Linked DNA regions of Homo sapiens: all the other regions are linked to region 1. The links come from fine-mapping of genetic effects on gene expression. A gene starts in region 1. Each other region holds a variant in brackets. All regions are shown on one strand. Distances are from middle to middle.

The links. PIP is the estimated chance that this variant, and not a neighbour inherited with it, causes the effect.
Region 2: its variant is fine-mapped to the expression of LINC01187 in whole blood (TOPMed, PIP above 0.99).
Region 3: its variant is fine-mapped to the expression of LINC01187 in naive CD8 T cells (Schmiedel 2018, PIP 0.91).

The regions. Positions count from the first base shown.
Region 1 is chr5:170,194,199-170,202,382 of GRCh38, forward strand. It overlaps LINC01187 (long intergenic non-protein coding RNA 1187), which reads right to left and starts at 4,943. Exons shown (of 5, transcript NR_108022.1): 1 at 4,544-4,943; 2 at 3,554-3,631; 3 at 2,286-2,433.
Region 2 is chr5:170,241,610-170,249,793 of GRCh38, forward strand. It overlaps C5orf58 (chromosome 5 open reading frame 58), which reads left to right. Exons shown (of 4, transcript NM_001102609.3): 4 at 4,353-4,622. The coding sequence ends at 4,504. It overlaps LCP2 (lymphocyte cytosolic protein 2), which reads right to left. Exons shown (of 21, transcript NM_005565.5): 21 at 4,624-7,210. The coding sequence ends at 7,088. Among named protein-coding and RNA genes, the nearest start is that of C5orf58, 13 kb to the left of the region's middle. The variant T/A (reference allele first, on the strand shown) is at 4,967.
Region 3 is chr5:170,218,858-170,227,041 of GRCh38, forward strand. No RefSeq gene overlaps it. Among named protein-coding and RNA genes, the nearest start is that of C5orf58, 10 kb to the right of the region's middle. RefSeq lists an enhancer at 517-1,716. The variant G/GAAT (reference allele first, on the strand shown) is at 4,522.

The DNA.
Region 1 (8,184 bases):
CCATGATGGCTCATGCCTGTAATCCCAGCACTTTGGGAGGCAGAGACGGGCGGATCACCTGAGGTCCGGAGTTCAAGACCAGCCTGGCCAACATGGTGGAACCCTGTCTCTACTAAAAATAGAGAAAATTAGCTGAGCGTGGTGGTGTGCGCCTGCAATCCCAGCTACTCAGGAGGCTGAGGCAGAAGAATTGCTTGAACCCTGGAGGAGGTGGTTGCAGTGAGCCGAGATTGCACCACTGCACTCCAGCCTGGATAATAAGAGCAAGACTCCAACTCAAAAAAAAAAAAAAAAGATCCTTCCTGCTGAGCTGAGCTGACTTGGCTGTGAGCAGAGGCAGAGTCTGGGAGGCACCCCAGCCTGAGCAACTTTTCTGGAACTGCATAGTGTTTGATGAAATGGATTGAAAACCCAATTTCCAGCTCTGTGCCAATTTGGGGTCAAATGATATATTTCACTTTTGTCAACGAGCTTTGCTTTTCTGAGCCTCAGTTTCCTCATTTGCAAAATGGGAGTGATACTTCCTGACGTTCTGGGCTGTCGTAAAAACTAAATAAGATAGTGTATGTCCAGGCCAACTCAGCATCAGGCACACAGTTAGCACTCACATATGTGACGTGAGAGGTGTGAGGCACCCTCTGAACTAAAACACTAAATCAAAAAACAGATACGGAGCTGGGCATGGTGGCGTGCACCTGCAATCCCAGCTACTCAGGAGATGGAGGCAGGAGGATCCTTTGAGCCCAGGAGCTTGAGTTCAGCCTGGGCAACATAGAGAGACTCCATCTCTAAAATAAAATAACATAACGTAACGTAACGTAAAGTAAAATAAAATAAAATAAAATAAAACAAAATAAAATAATTAAAGAAAAACAGATATGGGGAGGAGCTCTCTCTGGCTTTCCCTCCCGGCTCCAATTCCACAGCTCCGGAATCCGCACCTGGTAGACCCTTTCGCTCTGAACTCAAATGCCTGGCCTTATTCTGGCAGGGTTAGAAGCACAGGCTTGCGTTCTGGGGGATGAGTACAGGTAAGCCACTTCCCCGGGGATTTCACTGTAGCTTCTGAGCACATACAGATAGATAGTATCCTTATAATAATATTATTTATGCGGCTCTTATTATTTGCTAGTTACTTTCTTTGCGCCCTTAAGCAAGGAACTAAACCTCTCTGAGCCTCAGATTCCTTATCTAGAAATCAGAGAAAATAATAATGCTTATTCAGAGCGATTGTGAAAATAAAATTAGCTCATACATATAAAACAGAACAGTGCTTGATGCACAGCCAATTCAAAATGTAAATATAATTAACACTATAAATACATTGAAACAATATAAAATTAGTTGTTATTTGGCAGGCACTGCGCTATACACATATGCATGATTCTCAGAACAACCTTCAAGGTATCTACTATTATTATAATCTCATACAACAGTTGAATAAACTGAAAAGTGAAGTAAATATTGCCCTAGACCACTTGGCCGATAATTGGCACATCTAAAATTCAAAATTGATTGGCTCATTCCAAAACCAAGCTCCTAATTGTTATGTGCTCATCAGTGTGGAAGTAAGAGATTGTCAAATATTACTTCACACCCCCCCCCTTCATTAGTTAAAAAATAGACAACCACCACCTCAATGATGCCAACAACTACAAAACTCAACTCCACAGGACCCCTGTCATGCTACGAGCAGATGGCATCGATCCTGACTTTGCTGCCATGAAATCCCCTCAAGAGAGCCCCACATCAGGGGTCCTGAGTTTGCAGACAGTCATTAGAGACATCCTTGTTTGGGAAACAGCTGCCCTCCACCCTGATTTCACAGCTGGGGAAACAGGGCCTGGAGAGGAGACTCATCTGGTCCCCTCTGTTTTATGCCGCTCCTTTCTCTTGCCAGTAACACCACACCATGGAGCTTTGCCTCTCGGGGCCCATTCATCTCAAATCCTTTTTCTGATTAGCTCACTGTGCTGCCTGCCACCCAGGTTCTCATCAGAGCACTCACGGGGCCTTGGCTATTTAAAAATTCTGTTAACTCGAGAAGTCTCTGCCACTGCCCCTGCCAGCACCAGGCTCACCCATGTTTGGCTTTTGCATTCTGTGCTTCCTAATCCCATTTCTGGGGCTTAATTATGATTACACAGCTTTATTATGTAGAATTGATTTTAAGTAATGGCCCTAATTAAGAGTGAATTTTAATTAAGCTTAATTCAGAGCCTGCCTCCGATTGCCAAAGATTTGCAGCCTGAGAAGAGGAAAGGCTGCCCGTGCACAAAACTCACACGTGACTTTGATCTTCATGCTGCTGGACTGTTGCAGCCAGATGGGTTTGTACTATTTTCTGGCCTCAGGGTGCATTTCTTCACCAGGGTGCAGGAGGTATCAGCTCTAGTCCATCTTCCCCTTCCATGCAGAAGCAAACTCGGAGCGCTGGCAATAAACAGAAGTGGGGATCCTGCACCTTTGGGGTGAATATCAACTACACCACCCACCCTGTTGTAGAAAATGAAGCTCATTTGCTTCCTTCCAACTGCTCATGAAACCTGTTCCACAGGTGAGAAAACTAAAGCTCAAGAAGGCCACGGCACACACAGGCAGCGAGGGCAGCAGGAAGATTGGAAATCAGCTCTGCTCCCAATGCCTGTGCCCACTCTGTTCCAACACAGCCTTCCAGTAAGTGGCAATCATCTCTGACTTTGGCAGAAACCAACCTGCTTGAATTTCCTGCCTGCCCACCTAAGCCACTGCTTCCCCAACTTTAGAAGCTCATACGCTGTGAAGGTGGGTCTTTTATGTAAGAGTGAAAAACATCTCAAACCAACTTGTTTTCAAACGAAAATTTTTTCCTACCTTTAAAACTGCTATAAAGCAAAAGTTGTCATAAAAATGTTAAAAAGGAAATAAAACAATGTGATTAAATCCAAATCAGAAACTATTACCTTCTAAAGCCCTAGGAGTAAGGCTTGATCTGCCTGACTTTAAAAAACAGAGATGAGAAGATAGTTCGACCACAACAGCACCAAACTGAGACTTTGTCCCTAACATAATCGGAAAGACCGAAAAAGAGTTGGGAGGACATTGTGTTGCTCCGTGATACAGTGTTATTTAAAGTCGTGTCCAGGTGTCAGCTAAAATCGACTCTCCTTTGTCCAACATTTTCACGGACACTGATCCAAACCAATTTAGCACAGGTTTCCAGGGACCTCTGGGTAATAATGCCCCTCAGCTGCCCTACAGATGACAAGATTCTGGACAGAAACCCAGCTCCCCTAACCCACAGCCCTGGCCCAAGGACAAGATATGGGCATTCCTTTGGTGTTTCAAATAAAAACACAGTGAAATCAATATGTTCTCCAAGACCGGCTGGTGGAGGCTGTTCACCTGCGGAGAAGGGGCCTGGTCATCCGGTTCCTGAATGCCTTTGCCACACTAGAATGTTTTATGGTTCTAAAGTTCCCACCTTAGAAAATCACCCACTAAGAAGCCAAGCTCTGAAAACGTTTTGATTTTTCTAGAGGGAAATGGAAAGTGAAAAATGGAATTCAATTACCTTGAAAAGGGGCAATTTCACTCACAACTGTTACACTTAAAAGCTCCATATGAAACAGGCATTCAAATAAGTCTCAGCCTAAGTTAAAAGAAAAAGGGGAAAAAGAAAATCATGTATTAATCCTCTTCCCTCTACTCCTTCTGACCTAGTGAGTCTTCCTTAGACTCAAAAAAGATAGATGGACTTGAAACACGATTAAATAAGCATGTTAGGACTTTAATAATCCAAGCCGCAGGAGTTTCTATTAAAAGTTGGGTATTTAGAAGAACCATTTGGTTAACCAGTCTAGTGACACAGAAACCACCATGTGAGGGAGGCTCTTCTGAGCAGAGCTGAAGCAGGGACTCCCTGCTTTTCTCTCAGAGATTTGGGGGTAAAGTTACCATCAGACCCTTCAGTTCAGCTGAAAACTCTGAGATGCCCAATACACTCCCATTTTCTACTTCAAGGAAACTTCACTAAAACAGAGGAAAAGATAATAGCCTTGATTGAAATAGAAAGGCGTTACAGAAACTGACACCAAACAACACAACAGACATCATCATCCCATCATAACCATGACGCGCTCATTCTTTCTTTACATCTTCATTCCTGCTAGGTCAAGGCAAGCCGTAGAAGTGGTTTTGTGACCACCATGATGGTTTCCCAAGGCAAATTTAGACAGCATATTTTCTCCTACCACAAAAAACTCCAGCCAGACTCTCCAGTGGTTGAATTCCTATTCCTCAAGTTACCAGCTGTGGAACTCTGTGCCTCAGTTTCCCCATCTGTAAAATGGAGATAACAGTAGCATCTACCTCATAAGATTGCTGTAAATATTAAATGAGATAGTGCTTAGCACAATGCATGGCACATAGCAAGCACTTGGTGGCCGATCAATGGCAAATACGAACACTGGCTCGAGCTTACTGCCATGGTTTATCTTAGCAGCTCCTGACTTGCCTGTTGAGAAAAAATGCTCCTAAACTCAGAAGTATTCAGAAAACCTACAGCAAGGTGGTGAGAGACTAGACTCTTCAAACCTCTGAGGTGCTTTTCTGTCCTCATTCCAGTTTTCTGCCCATCACATTGGCCAAAGAGCTCTAGCCAGAGTTGAAGCCAGTGCTGATCACTTTCCTGACAACCTGGCTGGCAGAGATGGGACCGTATGTAGCACAGGGAAGAGGTGTGTTTTCAGACAGCTTCCTCTCGGAAATCCATTTTGACTGTAGATCCAAAGAAAATCCTTCCAGGCTTCTTGTGCACACGCCAAAACCTGCACACATGTATGCATTTCTTCCTCTCTGTGCATCTCTCCTGCACATCTGGGCAAAAACCAATCTCTGCAGGTAGCATCTTGTGCATATAGCTGTCCGGCCCTATGATAAAATGCATTGTTTCTCTCTGAGTGAAGCTTAATGCACCTCAGCCTGGGGATTTATACTAAGCAATAAAATCCACAGGATAGAGAAATGCAAATAGATTGTAGAATATAATATTATCATTGTCAACATAAAAGACTTTTATTTACTGCCCCCCAAAAGAAAATACACCATAGTGTCGTTTGTTTCAGGGAATGCAAAAAAGGTTTCAACAACTAACAGGGCATGTTTCTGAGCAAAATATACCCCGTATATAATGTTGGAACACATATTGTCAGTGGCCACTCGTGTGTCTGTGTTCTTGCAAACAAACCTGTGGAATTGAGTCATGGAAGGTCACTTCCAGCCACCTCTCTGAGCCACACGGCACCTACCTGGCTCTGTTCACAAACAAACCAGACAATATAGACCTATTTGAAGGGAGAGACCCTCTGAGGCAGGCCACACTCCATCAGCACATCTTAGAATGAGGCATTTGAGTAGTTGCTGACTTGGCTTACTGGGGAATGGAGTTGTGGTGGAGGTTGATTAAACAGATGGTCCATGTTGCTTTGGGCAAAGGGAAAAGTTAAAGAGAAGATGTAGCAGAGCACATGGGAGGTGACAACTCCATCTTTTCTCTAGAAGATATCCCTACAACTCCCCCTTAATGCTCAAGGTCATTCCACCAATGCTTTTGTTGCACAGGGTATTGACAACTTACAAGACCAATTATTTTCACTGATTTGTTTGAATGATAAGTCTGTTGTTTTGTGTAGGGGTTTGGCTATGATATCAGACCCAGTCACAGCAATTGTTTCATTTCTGTCTACAAGGGCAAGATCTAAGTTTATAAGGCTTTAAACAGCCATAATTACCTGAATGACATTTTATGTGAAAAATATATTCTAACTGGTTCTCCCAATAGCCCTAGGAAATATACCCTAGGTGTTATTACGGCCAATTTACAGGTGAGAAAACCGAGACTTCAGAGAGGTGAAGCACATTATCCATGGCCACCCAGCCTGTAGGAGGGTGGCTCCAGAGGCCTCAGTCCTGAGCCCGAGCCTGTCCTGCTTAAGCTTACATCAGGAAAGCCCTTACGTGGCCTGTGCTGGGTGCTCTGTCATGGGGACATCTCACAGGTTTGGTAGGTTTTATCACTCCTATTTTACAGGTGAGGAAACTGATACTTAAAAGAGGAAAAGTGTCTGCCCAAGTCACACAGATGTATATAGCTTGACTGGATTCGAACCTAAGTCCTGACTCCACCGGCTGTGTGGTATAAAAGGAGAGCTTGAAGGTGTCATCATTATCCCCTTTACAGGCCACCACAACCCCTATCACTGAGGGAGTTTTATAAGTTTCAGCAACCACATCAGTAATCTCATTTTGCATCCACAAATTTCTATTTTGTCCTTGCAGCTCACTTGGACAGGGAATGTCCCGCATGTTTGAAAAGATGGTTCAGAAAGGAGCCTTTGGCAATCCCCAGGGTTTCTGCACCCAAGATGGACTGGAGGGATCATGACAACCAGTTGCAATCAAAGAAAAGAGGAAACCATATCCGAGAGTGGAAGCTGTTTTCTTGCTTTCAGGGATCAAATGTCATGACCCCCCAACTCAGTCCTAATGCATCCTCCACAGACATACTCTTGAGCTCTCACAATCCACCCTTCAAGTCATGATGGGGCTCAAGACCTTCACTGGGCTTCATTATCACAGAGCAAACAGGGTGAAGAGGACTCATTTATTGAAGCAACAGATATTGGTGACCAATGAAATTGATGACCACCATGACCTAGGCTGGGCATTCAGTGGAGAGTAACACAGGCAACTTCCCTGACATCTGGGGCTTACAGATAATGGAGGAAACACAAAAGAATCAGATAAACAGATAGGCCAGACCAGAGAGTGCTAAGCAGACATTAAAACAAGGAAGTCAACATCAAATGCAGAGCCCAGAGAAGCCTTCCTTGGAGAGGTGACACTGAGCTGAGGCCCGACTTGCCCTGGAAAGACCTTGGGACACATTCCAGGAGGGAGGGTGCTGAGCCCTGGAGAGCTCTGTTTTGGGCAGTCACTCTCATCAGAGTTTCCATGATGACACAAAGGTCACATGGATGCCCACAGTCTAATTTCAATCAACAATGAATCATGGCCACTCTGGGCACACCAGCACCCCACTCCCCAAACCTCCACCACACCCACCACACCTACAAGGGCCGTTTGTTTGACCAACAGAGAAAAGATTATTCCAAAATACACTTGGTAAAAACATCCATGGGGAGGGTGAAGTTTCTGGTTTCCCCTTTAAAGAGCTATCATCTTTGGATGTTCAGAGCTTCTCACATGATAGCACCTCCTGTAAGGGTTTTGCCCCTGTAGTTAATGTTCAGAAAGTGTGTATTTCCCTTTTGAGAATTCTGTATGAAAGGGACACTGATAAGGGAAATGGAGGCCTTATTGCTAAGAAGCTAGTCAGCATTTGCAAGAGGAAGGGGAACTAGCATTGACTGCACACTTCCATGCACCAGCGTTGAGCTGGATGCCTTACCTGGTTTATCTCCTTCAATCCCAGGAAGAAGGTATGAAAAGCCCCACTTTTACAACCTAGGACATTAGGTCTCTGAGAGGCAAAGCAACTTTCACAAGATTATACAGCAAATAAGTGACAGAACCAGAACTAATTATATTACGTTTATTACATGAATCGAATTTGGTGATTACTTACTAGGTTCCAGGCACCTTGCTTGGTGCCTTCAGATCGTGCATGATTTCACTGACTTCTCACCACATTTCATTATATTACTATTCCCATCTAGCAGATGGGAAGACTGAGGTTCAGGGAGGTGAAGTAGCTTGCCTGTGGTTGTTCAGCTCCAAGGTGATAAAGTCAGGATTGAAACCCACATATGTCTGATGCCCTCTTTTTTCAGAGAGGCTGATGTCAAGAGAGGGAACCGTGGAAATGTTCCATATTAAAGGAGATTAACGAGGCATGACTACTAAACGCAAAGCCTGATCATAGACTGGAAACTGAACTAAAGGAGAAAATGCTATAAAGGATATTTTTCAGTCAACTGACAAAATTGGAACGTAAATCATAGATCAGATAAAAGGAGTTGTATCAGTTTTGAATTTAGACTGTTGATAACCCTACTGTGATTATGTGAGAGAATATCTTTCTCTCTAGGAAGCTCATAGGGATTCAGGGATGAAAGACTATGATGTATGCAACTTCTTCGTGTGTCTCAGAAAAAGAAATTGTGTGTATGTACATGTGTGTGT
Region 2 (8,184 bases), 47 kb after region 1:
TTTTCGTACATTGATTTTGTATCCTGAGACTTTGCTGAAGTTGCTTATCAGCTTAAGGAGATTTTGGGCTGAGACGATGGGGTTTTCTAGATATACAATCATGTCATCTGCAAACAGGGACAATTTGACTTCCTCTTTTCCTAATTGAATACCCTTTATTTCCTTCTCCTGCCTAATTGCCCTGGCCAGAACTTCCAACACTATGTTGAATAGGACTGGTGAGAGAGGGCATCCCTGTCTTGTGCCAGTTTTCAATGGGAATGCTTCCAGTTTTTGCCCATTCAGTATGATATTGGCTGTGGGTTTGTCATAGATAGCTCTTATTATTTTGAATTACATCCCATCAATACCTAATTTATTGAGAGTTTTTAGCATGAAGGGTTGTTGAATTTTGTCAAAGGCTTTTTCTGCATCTATTGAGATAATCATGTGGTTTTTGTCTTTGGCTCTGTTTATATGCTGGATTACATTTATTGATTTGCATATATTGAACCAGCCTTGCATCCCAGGGATGAAGCCCACTTGATCATGGTGGATAAGCTTTTTGATATGCTGCTGGATTCGTTTTGCCAGTATTTTATTGAGGATTTTTGCATCAATGTTCATCAAGGATATTGGTCTAAAATTCTCTTTTTTGGTTGTGTCTCTGCCAGGCTTTGGTATCAGAATGATGCTGGCCTCATAAAATGAGTTAGGGAGGATTCCCTCTTTTTCTATTGATTGGAATAGTTTCAGAAGGAATGGTACCAGTTCCTCCTTGTACCTCTGGTAGAATTCGGCTGTGAATCCATCTGGTCCTGGACTCTTTTTGGTTGGTAAACTATTGATTATTGCCCCAATTTCAGCTCCTGTTATTGGTCTATTCAGAGATTCAACTTCTTCCTGGTTTAGTCTTGGGAGAGTGTATGTGTCGAGGAATTTATCCATTTCTTCTAGATTTTCTAGTTTATTTGCGTAGAGGTGTTTGTAGTATTCTCTGATGGTAGTTTGTATTTCTGTGGGATCGGTGGTGATATCCCCTTTATCATTTTTTATTGTGTCTATTGGATTCTTCTCTCTTTTTTTCTTTATTAGTCTTGCTAGCGGTCTATCAATTTTGTTGATCCTTTCAAAAAACCAGCTCCTGGATTCATTAATTTTTGAAGGGTTTTTTGTGTCTCTATTTCCTTCAGTTCTGCTCTGATTTTAGTTATTTCTTGCCTTCTGCTAGCTTTTGAACATGTTTGCTCTTGCTTTTCTAGTTCTTTTAATTGTGATGTTAGGGTGTCAATTTTGGATCTTTCCTGCTTTCTCTTGTGGGCATTTAGTGCTATAAATTTCCCTCTACACACTGCTTTGAATGCGTCCCAGAGATTCTGGTATGTTGTGTCTTTGTTCTCGTTGGTTTCAAAGAACATCTTTATTTCTGCCTTCATTTCGTTATGTATCCAGTAGTCATTCAGGAGCAGGTTGTTCAGTTTCCATGTAGTTGAGTGGTTTTGAGTGAGATTCTTAATCCTGAGTTCTAGTTTGATTGCACTGTGGTCTGAGAGATAGTTTGTTATAATCTCTGTTCTTTTACATTTGCTGAGGAGAGCTTTACTTCCAAGTATATGGTCAATTTTGGAATAGGTGTGGTGTGGTGCTGAAAAAAATGTATATTCTGTTGATTTGGGGTGGAGAGTTCTGTAGATGTCTATTAGGTCCGCTTGGTGCAGAGCTGAGTTCAATTCCTGGGTATCCTTGTTGACTTTCTGTCTCATTGATCTGTCTAATATTGACAGTGGGGTGTTAAAGTCTCCCATTATTAATGTGTGGGAGTCTAAGTCTCTTTGTAGGTCACTCAGGACTTGCTTTATGAATCTGGGTGCTCCTGTATTGGGTGCATATATATTTAGGATAGTTAGCTCTTCTTGTTGAATACATCCCTTTACCATTATGTAATGGCCTTCTTTGTCTCTTTTGATCTTTGTTGGTTTAAAGTCTGTTTTATCAGAGACTAGGATCGCAACCCCTGCCTTTTTTTGTTTTCCATTTGCTTGGTAGATCTTCCTCCATCCTTTTATTTTGAGCCTATGTGTGTCTCTGCACGTGAGATGGGTTTCCTGAATACAGCACACTGATGGGTCTTGACTCTTTATCCAATTTGCCAGACTGTGTCTTTTAATTGGAGCATTTAGTCCATTTACATTTAAAGTTAATATTGTTATGTGTGAATTTGATCCTGTCATTATGATGTTAGCTGGTGATTTTGCTCATTAGTTGATGCAGTTTCTTCCTAGTCTCGATGGTCTTTACATTTTGGCATGATTTTGCAGCGGCTGGTACCAGTTGTTCCTTTCCATGTTTAGCACTTCCTTCAGGAGCTCTTTTAGGGCAGGCCTGGTGGTGACAAAATCTCTCAGCATTTGCTTGTCTGTAAAGTATTTTATTTCTCCTTCACTTATGAAGCTTAGTTTGGCTGGATATGAAATTCTGGGTTGAAGATCCTTTTCTTTAAGAATGTTGAATATTGGCCCCCACTCTCTTCTGGCTTGTAGGGTTTCTGCCAAGAGATCCGCTGTTAGTCTGATGGGCTTCCCTTTGAGGGTAACCCGACCTTTCTCTCTGGCTGCCCTTAACATTTTTTCCTTCATTTCAACTTTGGTGAATCTGACAATTATGTGTCTTGGAGTTGCTCTTCTCGAGGAGTATCTTTGTGGCGTTCTCTGTATTTCCTGAATCTGAACATTGGCCTGCCTTGCTAGATTGGGGAAGTTCTCCTGGATAGTATCCTGCAGAGTGTTTTCCAACTTGGTTCCATTCTCCCCATCACTTTCAGGTACACCAATCAGACGTAGATTTGGTCTTTTCACATAGTCCCATATTTCTTGGAGGCTTTGCTCATTTCTTTTTATTCTTTTTTCTCTAAACTTCCCTTCTCGCTTCATTTCATTCATTTCATCTGCCATTGCTGATACCCTTTCTTCCAGTTGATCTCATCGGCTCCTGAGACTTCTGCATTCTTCACGTAGTTCTCGAGCCTTGGTTTTCAGCTCCATCAGCTCCTTTAAGCACTTCTCTGTATTGGTTATTCTAGTTATACATTCTTCTAAATTTTTTTCAAAGTTTTCAACTTCTTTGCCTTTGGTTTGAATGTCCTCCCGTTAGCTCAGAGTAATTTGATCGTCTGAAGCCTTCTTCTCTCAGCTCGTCAAAGTCATTCTCCATCCAGCTTTGTTCTGTTGCTGGTGAGGAACTGTGTTCCTTTGGAGGAGGAGAGGCGCTCTGCGTTTTAGAGTTTCCAGTTTTTCTGTTCTGTTTTTTCCCCATCTTTGTGGTTTTATCTACTTTTGGTCTTTGATGATGGTGATGTACAGATGGGTTTTTGGTGTGGATGTCCTTTCTGTTTGTTAGTTTTCCTTCTGACACACAGGACCCTCAGCTGCAGGTCTGTTAGAATACCCTGCCGTGTGAGGTGTCAGTGTGCCCCTGCTGGGGGGTGCCTCCCAGTTAGCCGGGTCAGGGGTCAGGGACCCACTTGAGGAGGCAGTCTGCCCGTTCTCAGATCTCCAGCTGCGTGCTGGGAGAACCACTGCTCTCTTCAAAGCTGTCAGACAGGGACATTTAAGTCTGCAGAGGTTACTGCTGTCTTTTTGTTTGTCTGTGCCCTGCCCCCAGAGGTGGAGCCTACAGAGGCAGGCAGGCCTCTTTGAGCTGTGGTGGGCTCCACCCAGTTCGAGCTTCCCAGCTGCTTTGTTTACCTAATCAAGCCTGGGCAATGGTGGGCGCCCCTCCCCCAGCCTCGCTGCTGCCTTGCAGTTTGATCTCAGACTGCTGTGCTAGCAATCAGCGAGACTCCGTGGGCGTAGGACCTTCCAAGCCAGGTGCGGGATATAATCTCGTGGTGCGCCGTTTTTTAAGCCGGTCTGAAAAGCGCAATATTCAGGTGGGAGTGACCCGATTTTCCAGGTGCGTCCGTCACCCCTTTCTTTGACTCGGAAAGGGAACTCCCTGACCCCTTGCACTTCCCAAGTGAGGCAATGCCTCGCCCTGCTTCGGCTCGCACACCGTGCGCGCACCCACTGACCTGCGCCCACTGTCTGGCACTCCCTAGTGAGATGAACCCGGTACCTCAGATGGAAATGCAGAAATCACCTGTCTTCTGCGTCGCTCACGCTGGGAGCTGTAGACCGGAGCTGTTCCTATTCAGCCATCTTGGCTCCTCGAGAGCATAAATCTTATTTTAAGTCAGAATGGGACACACTTAAGTTGTGGTTTGATCACTAATCACTTGGAAATTAGGAATTAGGAAGAAATAGCTACTTAAAGCAATAATAGTTTTTTATGACATATGTGCTACAATATAATATCTCCTGTTTTGTTTTGCACAGAGCTCTCCCAGTTATTGCTTTGTGACCTTATCCTACATTTTAATCATCCCATCAAGACTGAGAACTTAGCAGAAGCAGAAAGAAACAACCCCCTCTTTGAAGAGTCTAAAATATCAGATGTATCCCTTGTTTCTAACAGTTTTTCTATCTGATTTCTTATTTGTTATGAGTTTCTGTTTTATTGTTGAACTAACAAATATTTGGGAGAGTTGAGTTTACTAATTTGTATATATATAATTTAAAACAAAATAAAAATAATGTAAACAAGCAGTTCATGTTCTTGAAGGCTGTTTAATGTTTTGAAGAATGGCTTAACTTACGTCACTAATGGCAAGTGTATGACATAGGAAATTGGCCATGGGTCACTGCTTATCCTTTAGCTTATGCTTGAATTTGGCTCAGGTTGAAAGAGAGCTACTAAATTATTAATTGATGGAATGAGTTTTTATTAATCAGAACTCTCCTGGTAGTGAACGCCAAGCACAACTCAACCAGCTGAAGCATTTATTGAGTCATGTGACTTGGAAGCACATAGTTGGAATAGATTTCAGGGATCCCACTAATTTGTCCATACTTTTACTGTGTTTTTGTGTGTTGGCCTCGTTGTCTTCTAT[T/A]GTAGACTGGTTCTTCCAGATAATTGGTAAATGGGAGTAGTTGCAGGGCAGCAGGCAGCTCCAAGTGTACAGCATTGCCTTTGGGGACCCCAGATAAAAGAGAGATCTTGTCTCAGGCTTCATGTTTAACATTCCAGAGAGTGACCCTGATTGACCCAGCTTTAGTAAGATGTTTATCACTGAGCAGGGTTCTGAGCAACTGTGACTGATGCACCTGGGGTCATATAGAAGGTCTGTGGCCAAAAGAGGCAAGGCCCAGCCAAAAGGAGTTGTCGGTGCTTGAACAGAGAGAGAATGCTAGTCATGAAAACATTAGCTTCCCAACATTGATTTCAGTCATAGCCATGGAACAGAACATCTTAATCCTGATGGCACTTTCCACTAATAGACTTAAAATGAGCTTTGGTTTGTTTTATAAACATGATTCGCTACCAAATAGTTGCTTTGAAATCTATCAGGTCCTTCATTTTAGATATTTTTGAATTGTAAAGATAGAATACGGCAAAGCAAGACAAGTGGAGCTTACTCGATACTAGAACCTATGGTGTATGCTATCCTTACTACCTTGTACCTAGCTCACTTGTTTAACACAGAAGAGCCACTAAGTAAATACTTGCTGAATAGCCCGTTGTGTAGACGTGTAAATGAATGCAGGGTTTTCAGCCTTAAACTCCCAAGTTTTGGACCCTAAACTGAGAACTTCTGGTTGTTAAGGATGAGATTTTGTGAAACACCATTTTTATCATCAGTTAAAAGTCTCTACCTTCTGCATACTCCTTATTTTAACATATCATCAGTTTTAAAATGGTGACTTCTTAGATTCCTTCCAATACCCCTTTTATTAGCTCATGAAAATGAAGCTGCAAGATACTCTTTTCCATTTCGAAAACTTGTAGATTAAGCAGAGACGCCAAAAATTGTTGCTAATAAAAGTTGTGCAATAACAACCAAGGTCCCAAAGGGAAAAACTTGAAGAACAACTGATTGTCACTATTTGGCTGAATACCAGTTTTTTAATCTGGCTGAATGCCTATATTTTTTGTTAAGTGATATTTGTAAACTGGAGGAAAGAGTTTAATTACCTCAAAGCACTTATACAGCCTGTTTGGGAAGGATGAGGAGAAGGGACTTTATGGCAGAGCTGTCAGGGGGATAACAAGAGACAGAAGAGCCATATCTAATAGGAAAGTCTGATCACATTTAATCTAAAGTGTTGCTCCCTCGTCTTCCCAGGAAGCCTTTGGTAAAATCTATATCCCTGGACAATGCTTTTGGGGTTGGGAGAAGGTTGGTGGGGGGCTGTGATGGTTGGTGTGGGTGTGGAGATGTGAAGAAATGCCAACTTAACCCCAGATGTGTTCATTAAACCTAGACCCACGATACACCAAAGTCTCATCCCTAAATTTAAAATGTTTTCTTTTGGTATTTGTAGTTTAAATTTTCTTTAAGACAAAAATATAACAGTATGGACTAAAAGTCAATAAAGTTGTTTTAGGAAACCAAAAAAGTAAAGCAAAAGACTATTTTAATCCCAGAAGTTATCTCAACATGCATTTGTCTTTTCATAAAAAAATTACGTAAAAATGCCCCCAGGAAAAAATACTAAATAAGAGTGAAATTATATTTTTGAAGCCTCTTAAATTATTGCTGCTGAGAAAACGAGGTTTAGTGATTTTCAAATTACATGTATAAAACTAATGAATGCCTCTGACTGACAGAGGTTTGGCTGTAAAAAACAAATCAGTTTTATGTGACACCAATAACTATTACTGTTTCAGTGTTTTAAAACTTGCCCCAAATTGTTTCTGTAGCTGTGTAAACTACTGTATTTTGAAATGGGCATTAAATAATCTTTTAAAAAATGAATTATTACAGTGCACTACTAGACTTCAAGTGTGAACATGACTCATGCACTTTACAAACATTGAAGAAGAATAAATAAATTATGGGATAGTTGACAGTCTTCATTTCAAACACTGTTTTTAAAGGAAAGGATAAAACCCTTGTGTTCATGGGGAGGGGTTCAGTTCAGTCCTAAGTGTTTGTCCATTGACCAAGGCTGATTGATCTCGTGTTGGCAACAGAGGCAGGAGGACGGTTCATTTGCTCGGCTATAACTTGCTATGGGTACCCTGCAGCATGCGTTAATGTGCACTGGTATCTGGAACCTCGGTTTTTCCCATCAATGAGCAGAAGTGGCATTTTCCTGAAGTAGTCAATAATATCTGACACAGACAGAAAGTCCTGAAAGAGTCAAGATAGGGAGATGAGTCAACATTGGAATGAAAAGCAGGAACTTCACTTTCAGTTTTTTTATCTGCATAATATATGCTGCCTCTTCAAGTGATGAGGATTGTGGGGGGAAAAAATGTAAATGTGGCAATTAGTTTAATGATTTCTGCTATAGAACTTTGAAAAAATTCCTCATAAACATCCAACAAACCATAGATAAAGATAAAATATGGGCCGGGTGCAGTAATTCACCCCTGTAATCCCAGCACTTTGGGAGGCTAAGGCCGGTGGATCACCTGAGGTCAGGAGTTTGAGACCAGCTTGACCAACATGGTGAAACCCTGTCTCTACTAGAAAATAGAAAAATATTAGCTGGGCGTGCTGGTGTGCGCCTGTAATCCCAGCTGCTTGGGAGGCTGAGGCAGGAGAATTGCTTGAACCTGGGAGGCAGAGGTTGCAGTGAGCCGAGATTGCGCCATTGCCGCACTCCAGCCTGGGTAACAAGAAGGAAACTCCATCTCAAAAAAAAATAGATAAAATATGTGCATGCGTGTGTATATATATATATATATATCTACATATCTATATATATATATATGTAATTTGAAATGCATATATTTTTAACTTCATATGAAGGGGTCATTTAAATAGTCACTATTACAATATTCTTGCCTCGGGTTGCTCTGTTTTTGGTTTTGGTTTTGGTTTCTGCATCTCTATTTCACCCCCAGTCATTAATAGTGTTAGGAAACATAAGGACTCAGGAGGTCAGACACGGTTCATGGTGTCTAGAGGTGGGATCTGCAGCATGGCACAGGAGTTCCTTCATGATCTCTCTGCTGTGTCCTCACTGCCACCTTCACACTCATAAAGGCTCAGCAACCAATATTTGCAGCCATAGCCTGGATCGCCCCAGCCTTGATTGCTTGCTAGAGAGGGAAAAGCCTAACTCATTTTTCTAGATGTGGGTCACAACTCACCTAGGA
Region 3 (8,184 bases), 25 kb after region 1:
CAGGCAAGGAAAGCATTGAAGGCAAAAGCAGAGCCACATGAAGCAAGCTGGTGTATTTGGGGACTGGCAGATGGCTGGCTGGGTAGGCTGGAGAGGTGTGAGAGAGAGGCTGGCAAGCAGGCAGTGTCTTGGAGGGCTTTTTCAGCTATGATGAAGAGCTGAGCAGTAAGAACTGTACCAAGCAGGCCCTAAATGTCAAAAGTACCTGCCAGGATCATTGCTCTCTTGTGAGTGTTATGAAAGCAGCCAGGGGCTGTTCTACCTGCAAAAACTGCTCTGTTTTGCCCATCTGATTGCCAACCTCAGCACACCTATTCCAAAAAAGAAAAAAGAGAGAGAAGAAAGAGAAAGAGAGAGAAAGGAAGGGAAGAGAAGAAAGTGGGAGGAGATGGGAGGGGAGGGCACACCAAATAAACAGAGCCCAGAGCTCCTCCTGAATAGCCTTTGACACATTATTTGGATGAACCCATGGGTGGGTTTTTGTTTCTTTTTATCAGGCAAATGGAAGTTTCACTCAGTTCCTCAAAAAGTGCCCAGGCAGGTAGAGAGCATCCATCTGCGATGGGTTCCCCTTCCTGGAAGCCACAGCACCATCCAGCCCCACAGTAGGTGGATGCAAATTCTTGGCTGAAATGAATGTGAGCTCAGCAAGATGATCACCGTGGTCCTGACCATCATCATTGTTGCAGTGGAAATTATCCAGGAAAAATCCAGAAAAAGAAATAGCATCCAGGGCCTAAGGGTGTGGAGTTGAAATATAACCTTTACTCTCACCCTGAAAAGAGCTTTGGAAGGGACTGTTCAGTTGAGGCAGCCACCAACTGAGCCACCAACTCAGTTGCAATGAGTCATTTTACAGGCTTTGCAGTAAATTGTCACAGCTGGGCTGTGAATGTGGTCATCCGGACTTTAGATAATCAACCAGTGAGCTTCTAGATCCTCTTGAAGCTCACATTCTGGAGGACAGAAAGGCAATAAAAAGCAAATATATAATAAATGAAACACTTCCTGATTGTGGTAAGTATCAGGAAGAAAATAAATGGGGTGATGAATCAGGGAATACTGGAGGAGTGACTCAGTCACTGTCCCAGCAGAAAAGAGAGGGCACGCTCAAATTGGGTAATTTATTAAAGAGACAATTTACCATGGTGTGGGCAAGACTGGATAAAGGAGAAAGTTATGAGGAAGCCCCTCCCCCCACCCCAAGGCTAAAAACAGTAGGGCACCATTGCTCTCTCTAGGCCTGAAAGGGGCACAGGGAGAAAGCAGTGCCCAGAAGATGTAACAAGAGGACATTGGAGGGCTGTTCGACAGGAGCCACAGCCATCAGCAGGGATGGAGTAGGAGTAACAAATGGGACCAAACATTAGAGATGTCATTCTTCCCCCGGGGTACCCACCAGATGCTGCACTTCCAGTGTGGATTTCTCTGCATACACAGCTTGACAAAGCCAGGTTAGGGAGACGAGATGGCCCAGCTCACAGTAGAAGTGGTTGAAGATTCCACTATCATCTCACATTAAACAGACACTCTTCAAGTGCAGTTGCTTTTGCAGACACCCCTGGGACTCAGATGAATGCAAAGGGGCCATTTGCATACCAGAACAGCTTAGCACAGATGAATTCTCTTCCATCTTCCTTGTCAGGCTGCAGGGAGGTATGCTCTAGACCTTGAGAAATGACCTTGGGCAAGCCATTTAATATTTTCAGGCCTCAGTTTCCTCATCTGTAAAAAGAGAGCATTAGGCTTAGTGATTTCTAGGTACAAAATTATGCTGTGTAGAGGAAGAAGCACTTTGAAGCAGGGGGAGGTGAGTTCAAATCCTCTATACCTCAGCTGGCTGGCCAACCCTGGGAGCACCACATCTCTGGGTCTTAGCTCCCCTACCTACCAATGTAAGTGATAACGTCTATCCAGACCAATCACAGCATTTAGACAATGCATGTTAAATCCCTTGTATTTTGTGCAACGAGTCAGAGCTCCACACATGTCTATCCATTTGCTGCAAGGCAATGTAACATAAAGGTCAAGAGAACAGGCTCTGAGTGAAGTACACAGCATGGGTTTGAAACCAACTGCCTCTACCACTTTCTAGTCAGGGACCTTGGGCAAGTCACTTAATACCTCTAAGCCCCCACTGTTTCATCTGTAAAACCAAGGAGAAATGCTGGCTGAATCCACAAGGTTGTTGCCAGAATCAAATTAAATAATACATATTGAGCACTTAGAACATCTTCCTTCAGTTACGATATTCTGCAGCTGTAATATAACATTACAAAGAGCTTTCCAGAATGTTCTCTGATTTTTTTAGTTCTTTTAATGCAACAAAGTTACCTGGGATTGGTTAAATATGGTGTTGCCAGAATTTTCACTATAATGGCATTGCACCCAGAAGCACCTAGCCTAACCTTGCTTTGCCCTGGGTGGCCAGCATCCAAGACGGCAGACTGTGAGAGCGGCTGAGGAAGAGCACCAGAAGGAAAGATCTGCGCAATCAAAGGCATACTGACCCCAACTCTCTGCATCCCAATATATTGCCCTAACTGCTTTTTTAGCCCCCTAGTGTGACTTGGTGTGAAGCACAAGCAATTCAAGTGATTAAGAAGGGAGTTACTAATTTAAATGAATAGCTTTGGCAAAATGAGCTCCTCGAAGAGCTCTGAGGGAGATAATGGGGCCTTGTGTTTGGAGGCTAGAGTCAGGATGGTTGTTTATGGCGCTCTAGGGCCAAGTATTGCTATAGCAACAAACGACTTAGCAACTGTATTGAACAGACTGTTTCTTTGAAAGAGTTTACATAATAGGGATTACTCGAGTTCTTTCTGGGAAGGATAACATTAGTACTTTTTTCTCCCCTTTTCTTAAACCTAAGAACATTTGGACGCAAAATCCTTTTTCAAAAGCTGTACAACAAAAGGGGGGAAATGACTGAAGGTTTTGAAATAAAATGTTAGCAGTTACATTCCTTGAGTGGAGAGATTACCAGTAATGTTTTTGTTTTTCTTTTTGAGTGCTTTTCTGAGACTTCCATGATGGTTTTGGTTTTGTAACTAGGATTAATTTCCATTAAAAGAAACAAATTGACCAGCCTGGGCAACATGGGAAGACCTCATCTCTATAAAAATTTTAAAACTAAAAAAATTAGCTGGGCTTGGTGGTGCGCACCTGTGGTCCCAGTTACTCGGGAGGCTGAGGTGGGAGGATCACTTGAACCCAGGAGGCTGAGACTTCAGTGGGCCATGATGACTCCACTGCACTCCAGTCTGGGTGTGAGTGAGACCCCATCGCAAAAATATATAATAATAATAATAATAATAATAATAATAAATTGACTATGATAAAATATAAGCCTGGAAATGTTAAGAGGGTGCTTGTGACCCAACAAGGATGGGGCCTGGCCTTGGTGGAGGAATGGCCCTTGGGGGACTTGCAATACTGTGGCGGGCTCCTGGCATTTGCTGGCTTTGTGCTGGCTTTGACTATGGGAAAGCACCCCAAAGGTTAATGAGTGGCCTGGCCAGTTGGCACCTGGCTGACGTGAGAATTTGAATCCTGCTGCCCTTGGGATGGGGGAAGGGAGGGAGCCCCACCACTGCCCACTCTCCCATTTCACCCCCACTTGACCCTGCAGCACCTATGGAGCCACTAGGGAAATCAACATCCTGTTAGTTTGTGACAAGTGGGCCTAGGATAATGGAAAAGAACAGGCAGCAGTTAATACATGACATGAGGGTTTGCCCAGAGAGCTCATGGCTTTGGAAGAAAATAAGAGTTGAGAGACAGCCAGGATATCTATCTTTACATTGTGAATTTAGTAATTCATGAAGATCTTAAGACGCATTTCTCTAAAATGCTTTTTCCAGTGATCATTATAATTGTTTTGTGGTTGGGAATTGAGGGAGCAAGGGAATTTCAGGGGGAAAATAATCTAAGCAAAACTTTCAGCATGTATTTCTTGAGTTCCTTCCGAATACAATGTATTGATTTGAAGGAATTAATTCACAGTTGTGCAATCATAATATGACAAACTATGTTCATAAACAACATAGTACATATAATGGTTAAAAGCCACAGGTTTGGGATCAGACTTGCATCTGAAGCCAGTACTGCAATAGCCAGCTGTGTGATCTTCAGCCACTTGCTCGAGCTTATAGAAATAGGCAGTGCAGCTGGGATTTGAACCCATGCGTATATTATCCCAGAGGCCTGGATCCCTAAGTCAAACAGTTTTGGAATGGAAAGATTTGTGGCTTTCTGGGGTGTCCACAGTCTCCTCTCCTCCATCTATGTGATCTGTCTTGCACCAACTGCAGTTCTAGCCGGAGAGTGTTCTGCCTGCTGTCTCGTGCACCTGAGAACCTAGGCTTAGGGACACTTTTTGTGTTTAGGCTCTCCCATCTGTCTCCATTTCTAATTTTGTCAGAGCCATGAATTAAGCTGGAAACAGATCCAATTTATTAGTTCCATTCCTGCTCCATGATTGTGCCCAGAGGCTCGTAGACACACACTGTAAATCACAAA[G/GAAT]AATAATAATAATAATAATAATAATAAAGAGCTCTCTGTTGAAAGCTGCCTTAGGGGACATCTGTCAGCTTGTTGAGGACCCCCAGAGAGCCAACTTCCTCTTTCCTCCTTCCAGAATAAACCACAAGAAGAGGAGTCAGTAAGTGAGGGAAACTTTAAGGTCAAGTGGAGACAAATTCCCAGCCCCATCCACTTTCTTGGCTAGCCATAAGCATTCTTATCCTTCTTTTCTACAAAAACAGGAAATTTATATATTAATGTGCCAAGCCCTTTGCACAGATCAAATGCAATCCTCCCAACAGCCCTATTAACTAAATACAGCTACTCAAATTATCCTCATTTTATGCATGAGGACACTGAAGAGTTACAGAGGATAAGTAACTCGAGGATGCACACCTCATTAATTGAGGAGCTAGGATTTAGATCCAGAGCCTCATGATTCTAAAGCCTGTTTTTTGTTTGTTTGTTTGTTTGTTTTGTTTTGGCCACACTAGGTTTCTAGAAACTTCCAGTTCCTTCTTAAAAGTCCTTTTTGGGCATTCCGGCCTAAATCCCAAAACTGTGGTCTGGGTACAAGAGAGAATTAGGCCAGTGAGAAAAATTTAAACCACCCTGCCCTCTAAATGTCTGTCTTCTTTCGGAGACTGGTGAAAGTTTCTCAATCACTCAGCAAGTAATCTCATTGTGAGCCAGGCACGGAACTAAGCACTTGCAGAACAGAGGCAAACTAGACACAACTGCAGGCCTCAACAAGCTCGGTCTAGTGGGAGAGGCAGATTGGAAAACAAACATGGCAAACCATTCGAGGTAGTCTCAAGAATGGAGGGGATAGATAACAAGATGTAGGGAGAGGAGTTTCTAAGCAAATGTCCTATGCAACCCTAGAAACAATATGGAGGAATAGAAGGCTGTGAGAGGAAAATAAGATCTCAGGGCCCCAAATTCACTGTGCCAAAGGGAAAGGGCTCATCCTGGAATCTGAGTCATGAACAAAACAAAAACAAAAACAAAAAACAAAAGCAAAAACAAAAAACAAAAAGACCTGCCTTTGCTTTTGTTTCTAAACTGATAGCTACAGATAGAAGGTTGCATGTCTCCACAGAAGGCCTTCCTCACCCTGACAATGTAAATCAACAGCTTATCTTCATGGGTATGGGACAAGAGGAGACTAGAAATTGTCCCCACTCCCCATCCCAAGACAAATGTGCATTTGATTGACTGCTTCCTCTACTCCATGTTTACTTTATCTTATGTAAAGTGCAGATTTACTGAGCATGAGACAAACATATAATTGACTATTTCCTCTACCCCCTCCTTTTCACTACAACGTGTGGAATGTGACCATATCCTCCCTTTATTTTCTCTTTCCCCTTTCTCATCCTACCCATTTTCCCCTTTAAATATCAAAGCCCTCAAAATTCTCTTTGGAAGAAATAGGGCCACAGATCCGACTGTGGCTTGTGTCTCTTTTTCCCCATTGTGTTCTCAACCTTGGCAAAATAAACCTCTGAACTGATTGAGATCTGTCTCAGATACTTTTTGGTTTATAAGGCATAAGGCCCAGCCATTTCCCAGCTGAGTAATCTGGAGTCCAACCCTGAGTCTTTCTGAGTCTCAATTTCCTCAGGCATACAATGGGAATATGAATTGTTTCCAAGGCTCTCACAATTAAATGAGATCATATAGGCCATGCTTAGCATCCCATTCTTCCATCACCAGGTGTCACCTATCACGGAGTCTGTGCTGATTCTACTTCTAAACATTTCTGTAATGTCATTTCCATCTCTTCTGCCAACATGTTAAACAAGGCCCCATCATCTTCCCCATGGATGACTGCAATACACTCCCAACTGGACTTCTCATATCTATTCTTTCCTCCTGTCCAATCTGTTCTCCATTGTGAAGCCAGGATCACCTTTTTAAACTCCAATTATGAGCATACCACCCACTACCTCCCATTCGTCACCTGCTTAACACCCTTCAGTGGCTTCCTACAGGCATCAGGAGAGAGAATGTAACCCTCTGCATAGCATGGTTGGCCCCTGCTCCCTCTCCAGCCTCATCTCACCCTGGGTTCCCCCTCACTCCCTGCATCCCCGCCTTGCTGACATTCTTTCAAGCTCTCCCATCTGCCAGGATGCCTCCTGACATGAGGGCCTGAAATATGCTGTTCCCTCTGCCTATCATGCTCGTTTCTCCTTCTCATCTCAGCCCAAATGTTCCCTTTCCAGGGAAGCCCTCCCTGAAAGCTGCCCCAGCCGTGTCACCGTCCCCACTGGGACATCCTTCCTTCCTTGATAGCTTCTAATTGAATCCTCACTTAATATGCATTTGTGTGATGTGTGGATTCCAGTCTGTCTCCTTCACCAGACCATGAGCTCCATGGCTCACCCCTACATGCCTCAAACTTAGCATGGTGTCTGATACACAACAGATGCTCAAGAAAGGTTTGTTGTATGAATATTAAATGCATGGCACTTGGGAAGTTTATAAAATTGTGACTTCCTTTTCCCTTGTCTAGGGCTTCTTATATATGAAAGTTAAAAAAAAGTGTGTTTTTGTTTGGTGGTTGTTTTAATGAAACATTATTTGTCAAAGTCTCCAACAGTGCAGATCCCTAAGATTTCCCTTTCTGCAAAAGATGGCCAGCAGAGGGCCCCATAGGAGCAATTACTGAAGTCAGGTCAGCGAAAACAGCAGCTGCTGAAAGATAGCCGATCCTGTGCCCAAATCTCTGGCAGTCCTTGAGCAGCTTGGAGAGAACATCACCATCATGGAACCCTGGCCCACTATGTCCAAAAACTGTTTGATCTGGCCTCAAGAAACAGGAGTTCATAAGGCAGGAGATCAGAGCCCTGCGTAGACGGTTTTAATGCAAATCCCTGCTTGTTTCTTGAGTTGCCAGTTTCACGCTTAAGAATTTGTAGTCAAGAGCTCGCACAGTTGGGTAGAATCACGCATGAGTGTTAGGGGAGATTTGCTTTCTTTGGGGGCCACTTTTCGTTTTCCAGTCAGTAGTTTTATTTCCATTTTAATTTTCCGAGCATCTGGCCCCCAGCAACAGCCTGTGGTTTGGAATTCATGGCTCTGTTGTGTGTTTACGCACTACACTTGCTTGTAATTGACAAATTTAAATTCTGGTCATATTTCATTTATTACCCAGACCCAGGGAAAAATCCTAGGCGAAAACCTAATTACAGCAAAAGTGCCACAAGGTAATTGCTGTGAAAGAACTCCTGCAGCAGCAGGGCTGAATATTTCATCCACCCATAAAATGATTATGCTGACAAGATTCTGAAAAATAATAAAATCTGTTTAATAAAAAAGAAGCAAAATATCAGTGTTTTTACACACAAAGTATTAAAACATTCTTCATTTTGGACAGATCCTAAGTCATTTGATTTTTATTCAAATGATGATCCACAGCTGAGATAGTTCTTTTATCAGAAACCGGGGTTGGGTAATCCCTCCCACATGAGGCTGTGTGGAAGCTTCCAGGCCTGCAATGGCCTTCTGGAACAGTACTGAATCGGCTTGCCACTGCTCTATTGGATCTCTGGTCTGTGCCACAGAATCAGAAAGCAGATGGAATGAAAGGAGAATGCCTTTAGTTTAGACTGCTGTCACTCCCCCACATTCTCCCTGGCCACCATGGGGGCTGTC